Linked DNA regions of Homo sapiens: all the other regions are linked to region 2. Evidence: fine-mapped expression QTL. A gene starts in region 2. Each other region holds a variant in brackets. All regions are shown on one strand. Distances are from middle to middle.

What was found. PIP is the estimated chance that this variant, and not a neighbour inherited with it, causes the effect.
Region 1: its variant is the best candidate, but not a certain one, in a credible set for the expression of SLC12A9 in anterior cingulate cortex (GTEx, PIP 0.51).
Region 3: its variant is the best candidate, but not a certain one, in a credible set for the expression of SLC12A9 in aorta (GTEx, PIP 0.80).

Annotation. Positions count from the first base shown.
Region 1 is chr7:100,923,818-100,927,895 of GRCh38, forward strand. No RefSeq gene overlaps it. Among named protein-coding and RNA genes, the nearest start is that of MUC3A, 24 kb to the right of the region's middle. RefSeq lists an enhancer at 3,664-4,078. The variant C/T (reference allele first, on the strand shown) is at 1,804.
Region 2 is chr7:100,851,182-100,855,259 of GRCh38, forward strand. It overlaps SLC12A9 (solute carrier family 12 member 9), which reads left to right and starts at 1,532. Exons shown (of 14, transcript NM_020246.4): 1 at 1,532-1,654; 2 at 2,975-3,197; 3 at 3,439-3,573. The coding sequence starts at 3,017. It overlaps SLC12A9-AS1 (SLC12A9 antisense RNA 1), which reads right to left and starts at 1,433. Exons shown (of 2, transcript NR_146550.1): 1 at 1,333-1,433. RefSeq lists enhancers at 749-948, 1,019-1,168 and a silencer at 1,459-1,768.
Region 3 is chr7:100,741,611-100,745,688 of GRCh38, forward strand. All of the region lies in intron 7 of ZAN (zonadhesin), which reads left to right. Among named protein-coding and RNA genes, the nearest start is that of ZAN, 10 kb to the left of the region's middle. RefSeq lists an enhancer at 3,666-3,715. The variant G/A (reference allele first, on the strand shown) is at 2,128.

The DNA of each region.
Region 1 (4,078 bases), 73 kb after region 2:
CCTCGCCAGGCTGAGCCAGGTCCTAATTCTTCCTCAGCCTCTGCTCCCCCACCCTATAATCCTTTTATCACCTCCCCTCCTCACACCCAGTCTGGCTTATAGTTTTATTCCACGACTAGCCCTCCCCAACCTGCCCAGCAATTTCCTCTTAAAAAGGTGGCTGGAGCTAAAGGCATAGTCAAGGTTAATGCTCCTTTTTCTTTATCTGAACTCTCCCAAATCAGTTAGCATTTAGGCTCTTTCATCAAATATGAAAAACCCAACCCAGTTCATGGCTTGTTCGGCAGCAACCGAGACACTTTACAGCCCTAGACCCTAAAAGGTCAAAAGGTCATCTTATTCTCAATATACATTTTATTATCCAATCCACTCCTGACATTAAATAAAACTCCAAAAATTAAATTCTGGCCCTCAAACCCCACAACAGGACTTAATTAACCTCACCTTCAAGGTGTACAATAATAGAGTAGAGGCAGCCAAGTAGCAATGTATTTCTGAGTTGCAATTCCTTGCCTCCATTGTGAGACAAACCCCAGCCACATCTCCAGCACATGAAAACTCCAAATGCCTGAACCGCAGCTGCCAGGGATTCCTCCAGAACCTCCTCCCCCAGGAGCTTGCTACAAGTGCCAGAAATCTGGCCACTGAGCCAAGGAATGCCCACAGTCCAGGATTCCTCCTAAGCTGTGTCCCATCTGTGTGGAACCCCACTGAAAATTGGACTGTTCAACTCACCTGGCAGCCACTTCCAGAGCCCCTGGAACTCTGGCCCAAGGCTCTCTGACTCCTTCCCAGATCTTCTCAGCTTAGTGGCTGAAGACTGACACTGCCCGATCGCCTTGGAAGCCTACAGGACCATCACAGACGCTCTAGGTAAGTCTCACAGTGGAGGGTAAGTCCGTCCCCTTACTCAATTCGGAGGCTACCCACTCCACATCACCTTCTTTTCAAGGGCCTGTTTCCCTTGCCTCCATAACTGTTGTGAGTATTGACAGCCAGGCTTCTAAACCTCTTAAAACTCTCCAACTCTGGTGCCGACTTATACAACATTCTTTTATGCACTCTTTTTTAGTTATCCCCACCTGCCCAGTTCCCTTATTAGGCTGAGACATTTTAACTAAATTATCTGCTTCCCTGACTGTTCCTGGACTACAGCCACACCTCATTGCTGCCCTTTTCCCCAGTTCAAAGCCTCCTTTGCATCCTCCTCTCATATCCCCCCACCTTAACCCACAAGTATAAGATACCTCTACTCCCTCCTTGGTGACCGATCATGCACCCCTTACCATCCCATTAAAACCTAATCACCCTTACCCCGCTCAATGCCAATATCCCATCCCACAGCACGCTTTAAAAGGATTAAAGTCTGTTATCACTCGCCTGCTACAGCATGGCCTTTTAAAGCCTATAAACTTCCCTTACAATTCCCCCATTTTACCTGTTCTAAAACCAGACAAAACTTACAGGTTAGTTTGGGATCTGCGCCTTGTCAACCAAATTATTTTGCCTATCCACCCCACGGTGCCAAACCCATATATTCTCCTATCCTCAATACCTCCCTCCACAACCCAATATTCTGTTCTGGATCTCAAACATGCCTTCTTTACTATTCCTTTGCACCCTTCATCCCAGCCTCTCTTCGCTTTCACTTGGCCTGACTGACACCCATCAGGCTCAGCAAATTACCCGGGCTGTACTGCCTCAAGGCTTCACAGACAGCCCCCATTCCTTCAGTTGAACCCAAATTTCTTCTTCATCTGTTACCTATCTCAGCATAATTCTCATAAAAACACACATGCTCTC[C/T]CTGCTGATCGTTTCCAACTGATCTCTCAAACCCCAGCACCTTCTACAAAACAACAACCCCTTTCCTTCCTAGTCATGGTTAGATACTTTTGACTTTAGGTACCTGATTTTGCCATCCTAACAAAACCATTATATAAACTCACAAAAGGAAACCTAGCTGACCCCATAGATCCTAAATCCTTTCCCCACTCCTCTTTCCATTCCTTGAAGACAGCTTTAGAGACTGCCCCCACCCTAGCTCTCCCTGACTCATCCCAACCCTTTTCATTACCCACAGCCGAAGTGCAGGGCTGTGCAGTTGGAATTCTTACACGAGAACCCACACTGCGCCCTGTAGCCTTTTTATCCAAACAACTTGACCTTACTGTTTTGCCTAGCCCTCAAGTCTGCGTGCGGCGGCCGCCACCACCCTAATACTTTTAGAGGCCCTTAAAATCACAAACTATGCTCAACTCACTCTCTACAGTTCTCATAACTTCCAAAATCTATTTTCTTCCTCACACCTGACACATATACTTTTTACTCCCTGGCTCCTTCAGCTGTACTCTTTGTTGAGTCTCCCACAATTACCATTGTTCCTGGCCCGGACTTCAATCTGGCCTCCCACCTTATTCCTGATACCACACCTGACCTCCATGACTGTGTCTCTCTGATCCACCTGACATTCACCCTATTTCCCCATATTTCCTTCTTTCCTGTTCCTCACCCTGATCACACTTGGTTTATTGATGGCAGTTCCACCAGGCCTAATCACCACACACCAGTAAAGGCAGGCTATGCTATAGAACAAGCCACTATCCCACCTCTTAGAACCTCTCCTTTCCTTTCCATCATGGAAATCTATCCTCAAGGAAATAACTTCTCGGTGTTCCATCTGCTATTCTACTACTCAGGGATTATTCAGGCCCCCTCCCTTCCCTACACATCAAGCTCAGGGATTTGCCCCCACCCAGGACTGGCAAATTGGCTTTATTCAACATGCCCCGAGTCAGGAAACTAAAATACCTCTTGGTCTAGGTAGACACTTTCACTGGATAGGTAAAGGCCTTTCCCACAGGGTCTAAGAAGGCCACCACGGTCATTTCTTCCCTTCTCTTAGACAAAATTCCTCGGTTTGGCCTTCCCACCTCTAGTCCTATAATGGACTGGCCTTTATTAGTCAAATCACCCAAGCAGTTTCTCAGGCTCTTAGTATTCAGTGAACTAATGGTCTTTTAAAAACACACCTTACCAAGCTCAGCCACCAACTTAAAAAGGACTGGACAATACTTTTACCACTTGCCCTTCTCAGAATTCAGGCCTGTCCTCACAATGCTACAAGGTACAGCCCAGTTAAGCTCCTGTATAGACACTCCTTTTTATTAGGCCCCAGTCTTATTCCAGACACCAGACCAACTTAGACTGTGCCCCCAAAAACTTGTCATTCCTACTATCTTCTGTCTAGTGATACTCCTATTCACTGTTCTCAACTACTCATAAATGCCCTGCTCTTGTTTACACTGCCAGTTTACACTGTTTCTCCAAGCCATCACAGCTGGTATCTCCTGGTGCTATCCCCAAACCGCCTCTCTTAACTCTTAAAGTAAATAAATAATCTTTGCTGGCAAGGCTGTGCTGAACCTCCTTAGGCACTCTAATTAGATGTCCTAGGTCCTCCCAATTCTTAGTCCTTTGATACCTGTTTTTCTCCTTCTCTTATTCCATTTAGTTTTTCAATTCATACAAAACCATATCCAGGCCATCACCAGTAATTCTACACGACAAATGTTTCTTCTAGCAACCCCACGATATCACCCCTTACCACAAAATCTTCCTTCAGCTTAATCTCTCCCACTCTAGGTTCCCACGCCGCCCCTAATCCCGCTCGAAGCAGCCCTGAGAAACATCACCCATTATCTCTCCATACCACCCCCCAAAATTTTCGCCGCCCCAACACTTTACCCCATTTCATTTTATTTTTCTTATTAATATAAGAAGACAGGAAAATCAGGCCTCTGAGCCCAAGCTAAGCCATCATATCCCCTGTGACCTGCACGTATAAATCCAGATGGCCTGAGGTAACTGAAGAATGACAAAAGAAGTGAAAATGGCCTGTTCCTGCCTTAACTAATAACATTACCTTCTGAAATTCCTTTTCCTGGCTCATCCTGGCTCAAAAGCTCCCCCACTGAGCACCTTGTGACCCCCACCCCTGCCCACCAGAGAACAACCCCCCTTGGACTGTAATTTTCCTTTACCTACCCAAATCTTATAAAACCCCGCTCTCCCTTCACTG
Region 2 (4,078 bases):
AAAATAGTCCTGAATAAAGTCTGACTTACTGTTTTAACAAGAGTCAGATTTTTTTCTTTAATAAGCGCAGTAGAAGAGGTGAACTGAAGAGGAGGGGCTGCAGTCATTGATGAAGACAAGGTCCAAGGCAAAACCACAGACTAACAAGGTAAGGTGGAGGTTGAGATTTATGGAAGCAGAGTTCAGTGACGGACAGGCCAGGGTATGCCAAGGGAGTGCTTATAACTAACTGACCCTGAAAAAGTTTTTTTTTTTTTTTTGAGACAGAGTCTCGTTCTGTTGCCCTGGCTGGAGTGCAGTGGTGCGATCTCAGCTCACTGCAACCTCTGCCTCCCAGGTTCAAGCGATCCTCCTGCCTCAGCCTCCTAAGTAGCTGGGACTGCAGGCGCATGCTTGAGTTCAGGAGTTCCAGAGAGGCCTGGGCAACATGGCGAAACCCGGTCTCTACAAAATATTTAAAAATTAGCCAGGCGTGGTGTGTGCCTGTGTAGTTCCAGGCACTGCGGAGGCTGAGGCAGGAGGATGCTTGAGCCGGAAATGCAGAGGTTGTAGTGACACGAGATCGCGCCACTGCACTCCAGCCTGTGTAATAGTTCCTGGATCAAAAAAAAAAAAAAAAAAAAAAGGAAATGTATCTGAAACTTTCCAAGCTCCAATTTCCTAATCTGAAAAATTGAAATAGCGGTACCTACCTCACAGAGTGGCTAATTTAATGCAGTGCTATTTGCAAGGGATAATTTATCAAACCTTTAGGCGTTGTTCTAAAGTGCCCATTAAATGCTCACTGAACTCACAGCCTTAGGAGGGAGGTTCGAGTTTATGCCCATTTTACATATGAGGACGCGTTGGCAGGTGGTACTGCTGTTCATGGGATCTGTAAAGAGTGAAGAAGGAGTCTCAGCTCTCAGTAGAGTTCATAGGCTCTAGGATTTCTGCTGGAAGTGAGAACACTGCAGGGAGGCAAGAAAGCGGGCATCAGACGGTGCAAAGCGACCCTGGGCCCAGATCGGCGGCCAATGGCTCCCTCCGGTGGCGGAAGCGAAGAGCGCAGCTGGATCGGGCGCGAAGGGAGGATCCCCGCAGCGGGTGAGGGGCGAGGCTGGGACCCGGTGGAGGTTCTAGGGTTTTGAGAGGTTGGAGGACTAGAACTCCAGAAGTCCCTGAACGAAGTGGGCCGGATTTCCCGTGACGCACCTGGCCCAGGTGTTGCAGCCCCGCCCACCTCCCTGCCGCTTTCCGCCATCCTCACACGCCCCCTTTAGTGGGGTGGCTGCTCACCGCACCTCGGAGCTCGGACTGGGGTCCGGCCCCTGCGGCGACGATTGTTTGTACCTAAGTGAAGGAGGCTCCGAGACCCGCGGCCCACGTCCTGCCGGAGACGCTTGTCTGCAGGGCTGCATTGCATCCCCGGGCGCACGTGGAGCTGGAGCAGCGCAGGCTGGGGAAGAGCAGAGAGGGTCGGGCTTCTCCGGGCGCGCCATGGGGCGGGGCCGAGGACGGGGACCAATAGCGCGCGCGTGCTGGTGGGGGTGGGGACAGGCTCCAGGCCTGGCATCCCGGTAGCCGCAGCTGTCTTTTCCGGCCCCCGTGCACTCTCCGCCCGAGCGGAGCCCCCCGGCTCGCGGGGATCGCCCCCGAGCGCTGCGTCCTGCGGGTGGGTGAGTGAGCGCCTCGCGGCCCCCGAGCTGTGGGGTGCACCTGGCCGGGGAGAAGGATATCTTGGCTCCCTTGCACCCCAACGGGCGCAAAGGGGCAGGAGCCCGGATTGGGGGAGGAGGAGGACCCGGGGACCTTGTGTCGCTCGGTGGGAGCCGGTCTGTGTTTCTGTTTCGCTAGGGTGTGTTTGGGTTGGTAGAGTTTGTGGGGAGGGGTGCCTCGTGTGGATGGGAGGAATCGGGGAGGCTAAGGCGAGGAGGAGGGGGTTTGAGATGGGTTGAGGGAGAGGATTGACGGAGGGTGGGGTTTTGAAAGAGTTGGAAGTTTCTTGTTACCTGTGGGTGCGGTGATTGCATTGGGGGGCTTGGTAGGGGCAGCTCAGGACACCGAAGGAGAGGATGGGGAAGGCTCTCCTGCCCGTAACTTACTTCCCTTTTGGGAGATTTGGTTCCTCTTGCATTGCTAGTTAAGGAAGGAGAGGCTGGAGAAGCCTGTGCCGTCAGAGAACCTTTGCCCCTTTCCAGAACCGGTGCCATCCCTAGTCTCAGGAACATAAGGGAAGGGGTGGCCCCCAGGAGCCGGGAGGGGCCTTGAAACCCCTGCTGACAGGTTTGGGGTACCACTTTTTTGTGGGGCAGTGGCTGGTACCATTTGCAGCCCACGGACTTTTTTGAGTTGCCGGTAAGCAGGGTGTGGGTGCGTTCCTGTTTCCTTGCGGTTGTCTCTTTTTTTTTTTTTATTGACACAGGGTCTCGCTCTGTCACCCAGGCTGGAGTGCAGTGGCATGATCTCGGCTCGCTGCAGCCCTACGCCTCCAGGACTCAAGCGATTCTCGTGTCTCAGCCTCCCAAGTAGCTGTGATTACAGGCATGCACCTTCACGCTTGGCTAATTTTTTTTTTTTTCTTGTGAGACGGAGTCTCACTCTGTCACCCAGGCTGGAGTGCAGTGGTGTGATGTCGGCTCACTGCAACCTCTGCCTCCTGGGTTCAAGGGATTCTCCTGCCTCAGCCTCCCAAGTAGCTGGGACTACAGGCATGAGCCACCATGCCCAGCTACTTTTTGTATTTTTAGTAGAGACGGGGTTTCACCATGTTGACCAGGGTGGTCTCGAACTCCTGACCTCAGGTGATCCACCTGCCTCGTCCTCCCAAAGTGCTGGGATTACAGGCATGAACCACCGAGCCTGGCCAATTTTTGTATTTTTAGTAGAGAGCAGCTCTGTCTTTTGGGGAGGCTTCAGGGTGTTTGATTAGTGGTCTTTGGGGGTGGGCGAGCTCTGTGGGGGAGCTTTTGATGCAACATAATCTCCTTTGCAGGTCACCTAACCCATTTGTGGCTTCCTCTACCTGTGCTCAGCCATGGCCAGCGAGAGCTCACCTCTGCTGGCCTACCGGCTCCTGGGGGAGGAGGGGGTTGCCCTCCCTGCCAATGGGGCCGGGGGTCCTGGAGGGGCGTCTGCCCGGAAGCTGTCCACCTTCCTGGGTGTGGTGGTGCCCACTGTCCTGTCCATGTTCAGCATAGTTGTTTTTCTGAGGATTGGTGAGTGGGTCCTGGGGCGGGTGTGGACTGACTATAGTATGGGAGGACATGATGGGGAGGGGTGGAGATGGGACTGGGATAAGATTAGGAAGGGGACCCAAGAGAAGCGGTTGGCTGAAGGGTTTGGGGAGGGGCTCTCTGTGGGCTTGCATTTAGCTCCACCCTGGAGCTCTGCAGAACCAGGGGGTGGGGGATATGGGGTGTGAGTCCCCTGTGACCTGATTTGCTGCTCCTGCCTCAGGGTTCGTGGTGGGTCATGCTGGGCTACTGCAGGCCCTGGCCATGCTGCTGGTTGCCTACTTCATCCTGGCACTCACCGTCCTCTCTGTCTGTGCCATCGCCACCAATGGAGCCGTGCAGGGGGGCGGAGCCTACTGTATCCTCCAACATCGATGGACTGGGGTCTGGCCTGTTCTGCCTGCTAGGGAGGGTGTGGAAGGGGCCATTACCTTTGTTGGCTCAGGGGCAAGACAAGTGTTTTTTTCATTCTTAAAATTTTTTTAGGCTGGGTGCGGTGGCTCACATCTGTAATCCCAGCACTTTGGGAGGCTGAGGTGGGTGGATCACTTGAGGCCAGGAGTTCAAGACCAGCCTGGCCAACATAGTGAAACCCCGACTCCACTAAAATTACAAAAATTAGCTGGGCATGATGGCACCCGCCTGTGATTCCAGCTACTCGGGAGGCTGAGGCACGAGAATCGCTTGAACCTGGGAGGTGGAGGTTGCAGCGTGCCAAGATCGCATCACTGCACTCCAACCTGGGCAACAGAGCAAGACTCTGACTCCCAGGCTGCAGTGCAGTGGCGCCATCATAGCTCACTGTGATCTCGACTTCCTGGGCTCAAGTGATCCTCCTATCTCAGCCTCCTGAGTAGCCAGCA
Region 3 (4,078 bases), 110 kb before region 2:
GCCGACCCCCCCACCTCCCTCCCGGACGGGGCGGCTGGCCGGGCAGAGGGGCTCCTCTCTTCCCAGTAGGGGCGGCCGGGCAGAGGCGCCCCTCACCTCCCAGACGGGGCGGCTGGCCGGGCGGAGGGCTGACCCCCCCACCTCCCTCCCGGACGGGGCGGCTGGCCGGGCAGAGGGGCTCCTCACTTCCCAGTAGGGGCGGCCGGGCAGAGGCGCCCCTCACCTCCCGGACCGGGCGGCTGGCCGGGCGGGGGGCTGACCCCCCCACCTCCCTCCCGGATGGCACGGCTGGCCGGGCGGGGGGCTGACCCCCCACCTCCCTCCCGGATGGGGCGGCTGGCCGGGCGGGGGGCTGACCCCCCCTCACCTCCCTCCCGGACGGGGTGGCTGCCGGGCGGAGATGCTCCTCACTTCCCAGATGGGGTGGCTGCTGGGCGGAGAGGCTCCTCACTTCTCAGACGGGGCAGCTGCCGGGCGGAGGGGCTCCTCACTTCTCAGACGGGGTGGTTGCCAGGCAGAGGGTCTCCTCACTTCTCAGACGGGGCGGCCGGGCAGAGACGCTCCTCACCTCCCAGACGGGGTCTCGGCCGGGCAGAAGCGCTCCTCACATCCCAGATGGGGCGGTGGGGCAGAGGTGCTCCCCACATCTCAGACGATGGGCGGCCGGGCAGAGACGCTCCTCACTTCCTAGATGTGATGGCGGCTGGGAAGAGGCGCTCCTCACTTCCTAGATGGGATGGCGGCCGGGCGGAGACGCTCCTCACTTCCCAGACTGGGCGGCCGGGCAGAGGGGCTCCTCACATCCCAGACGATGGGCGGCCAGGCAGAGACACTCCTCACTTCCCAGACGGGGTGGCGGCCGGGCAGAGGCTGCAATCTCGGCACTTTGGGAGGCCAAGGCAGGCGGCTGGGAGGTGGAGGTTGTAGTGAGCCGAGATCACGCCACTGCACTCCAGCCTGGGCACCATTGAGCACTGAGTGAACGAGACTCCGTCTGCAATCCCGGCACCTCGGGAGGCCGAGGTTGGCGGATCACTCGCGGTTAGGGGCTGGAGACCCGCCCGGCCAACACAGCGAAACCCCGTCTCCACCAAAACCAGTCAGGCGTGGCGGCGCGTGCCTGCAATCGCAGGCACTCGGCAGGCTGAGGCAGGAGAATCAGGCAGGGAGGTTGCAGTGAGCCGAGATGGCAGCAGTACAGTCCAGCTTCGGCTCCGCATGAGAGGGAGACCGTGGGGAGAGGGAGACGGAGACGGAGACGAGGGAGAGGGAGGGGGAGGGGGACGGGGACGATCTGACTTATTTTTTAAGGATTTTTTTTGTGTTGAGAATCCACTGAGGAGAACAGGCAAGGGTCGATGCAGAGAGGCTGTTTAGGAGGCTTTTGCAAAAATCCAGGCGACACTCTTTCTTTTTCTTTCTTTTTTTTTTTTTGAGACAGAATCTTGCTGTTGCCAGGCTGGAGTGCAATGGCACGATCTCAGCTCACTGCAACCTCTGCCTTCCGGGTTCAAGCGATTCTCCTGCCTCAGCCTCCCGAGTAGCTGGGATTACAGGTGTGCGTCACCATGCCCAGTTAATTTTTTGTATTTTTAGTAGAGATGGGGTTTCACCATGTTGGTCAGGGTGGTCTCGATCTTCTGACCTCGTGATCCACCCACTTGGCCTCCCAAAATGCTGGGATTACAAGCGTAAGCCACCATGCCTGGCTGATATTCTTTCTTTCTATGCACCCAAGTCTATCCCTAGCTTCTTTCCACCACCTCCCTGTGCACTCAGCTGAGCTTCTTTCTCTTTCTACTGTTGACTTCTTCCTTTTCTCTCTCACACAACATTCACTTTCTCTCTTAATCTTCTCACACAGCCCACATTTCAACCCCTCACTGAGCCAAGCACTGTAGGTCAAGCATAGAGGGTTCTGCTCCCTAATTTCCTGAGTTTATAATTCTTATTTTTGAATTTAAAAAAATGTTTTTAAAAACTAGGCCAGGTGCAGTAGCTCATGCCTGTAATCCCAGCACTTTGGGAGGCCGAGGTGGGCAGATCACTTGAGGCCACGAGTTCAAGACCAGCCTGGAACATATAGTGAGATCTTGTCTCTACAAAAAATACAAAAATTAGCCCAGT[G/A]TGGTGGCACACACCTGTAGTCCCAGATACTCGGGAGGCTGACGTGGGAGGACTGATTGAGCCTGGGAGGTGGAGGTGGCAGTGAGCTGTGATCGCACTACTGCACTCCAGCCTGGGCGACAGAGTGAGATTGTGTCTCAAAATAAATAAATAAATAAAAATAGAGATGGGGTCTTGCTACATTGCCCAGGCTGGTCTCAAACTCTGGGCCTCAAGCCATCTTCCTGCTTCGGCCTCCCAAAGTGCTTGAAGTACAGGTGTGAGCTGCCACGCCCAGCCTATATCTCTTTGTTCTTCTTTTCCCTTAATACTTATCCTTTCTCAATCCATTTCCTCCCTTCCACTTTACCATTTCCACACTTTATTTTATTTTCTTTATTTGTAAAGATGGGGTCTTGCTATGTTGCCCAGGCTGGTCTCGGACTCCTGGCCTCAAGTGATCCTCCTGCCTCTGCCGTATTTTCTTTTCTGTTTTTCCCCATCTTTTCCTCTCTCCACTCCATCAGTGTCCACTTGGACTCCTGCACTCCTGTCTCTGATCTTTCCTGCTGCCTAAACTTTGTTTTCTAGAAGGGCCCTGGCCAGGCGTGGTGGCTCATGCCTGTAATCCCAGCACTTTGGGAGGCGGAGGCAGGTGGATCACCAGAGGTCAGGAGTCCGAGACCAGCCTGGCCAACATAGCGAAACCCGTCTCTACTAAAAATACAAAAAATTAGCTGGGCTTGGTGGTGTGCACCTGTAATCCCAACACTCGGGAGGCTGAGGCAGGAGAATTGTTTGAACCTGGGAGGCGGAGGTTGCAGTGAGCCGAGATAGCGCCACTGCACTCCAGCCTGGGCAACAGAGTGAGACTCCATCTCAATAAAAATAAATAAATAAATACGTACATAAATAAATAAGGCCTTAAGAAGCCCTGGCCCCACCTTCACTGAAAGCCGACCAGCCCTCTCTGCAACCCCTCAGCATTTAGCACCGTGTACCGCGCCCAGCAGCTTCAGTAAATGCTGGTTGGCTTTTTATTTTTCCTTTCTTTCCCTTTCCTTTTCCATCTTGCTCGCTTCCTTATATTTTCTTCACCTTTCACTTCTTTTTCTCCCATTTCTCCTCTTCTGTTTCTCATAGGTCTCCTTGGTTTTTTTTTTGTTGTTGTTGTTTGTTTGTTTTTTGAGACAGTCTCGCTCTGTCGCCCAGGCTGGAGTGCGGTGACGCGATCTCAGCTCACTGCAACCTCCGCCTCCCGGGTTTAAGCGATTCTCCTGCCTCAGCCTCCCGAGTAGCTGGGATTACAGATGCCCGCCACCACGCCCGGCTAATTTTTGTACTTTTAGTAGAGACGGGATTTCGCCATGTTGGCCAAGCTGGTCTAGAACCCCTGACCTCAGGTGATCCGCCCGCCTCGGTCTCCCAAAGTGCTGGGATTACAGGCGTGAGCCACCGCGCCAGCCCGTGTCCTTGATTTCTCTTTCATCATTTTCCCACTTCCTTTCCTTTCCCTTCCCTCTTCCTTCCCGGTTGTTTCCTTTCTTCTCCTTCCTCCCGCCCATTCCCGCCATTCCAGCCTCTTCGCCGCCGCTCAGGATCCCACCTTCGGCAGGAGTGAGCGCGCGCCAGGCAAGACTCCCTTGGACTCGGGCGTGAGCACGCACGCGAGCGCGCTCCCCACGAGTGGCAGCCGCTTACATTTTCTTTTTCGCTACCAGTTGCGTCACCTAGCGAGGTCCACGCTGATTGGCTGTCTGAGCTGGGGGCCGAGGTGGTGTTGGGTGAGAGGGGGTTTGCCTCTTGCTCCTCTGTGTCAGAGCCGCTGTATCTCTCGCCAGTTTGCGTGAATAGGTTATGTCCAGCGGGTAAAGAAAAGGAAGAGGCAATCGGGTGTAGTGGCTCAAGCCTGTAATCCCAGCACTTTGGGAGGCCAAGGCGGGAGGATTGCTTGAGGCCAGGAGTTCAAGAC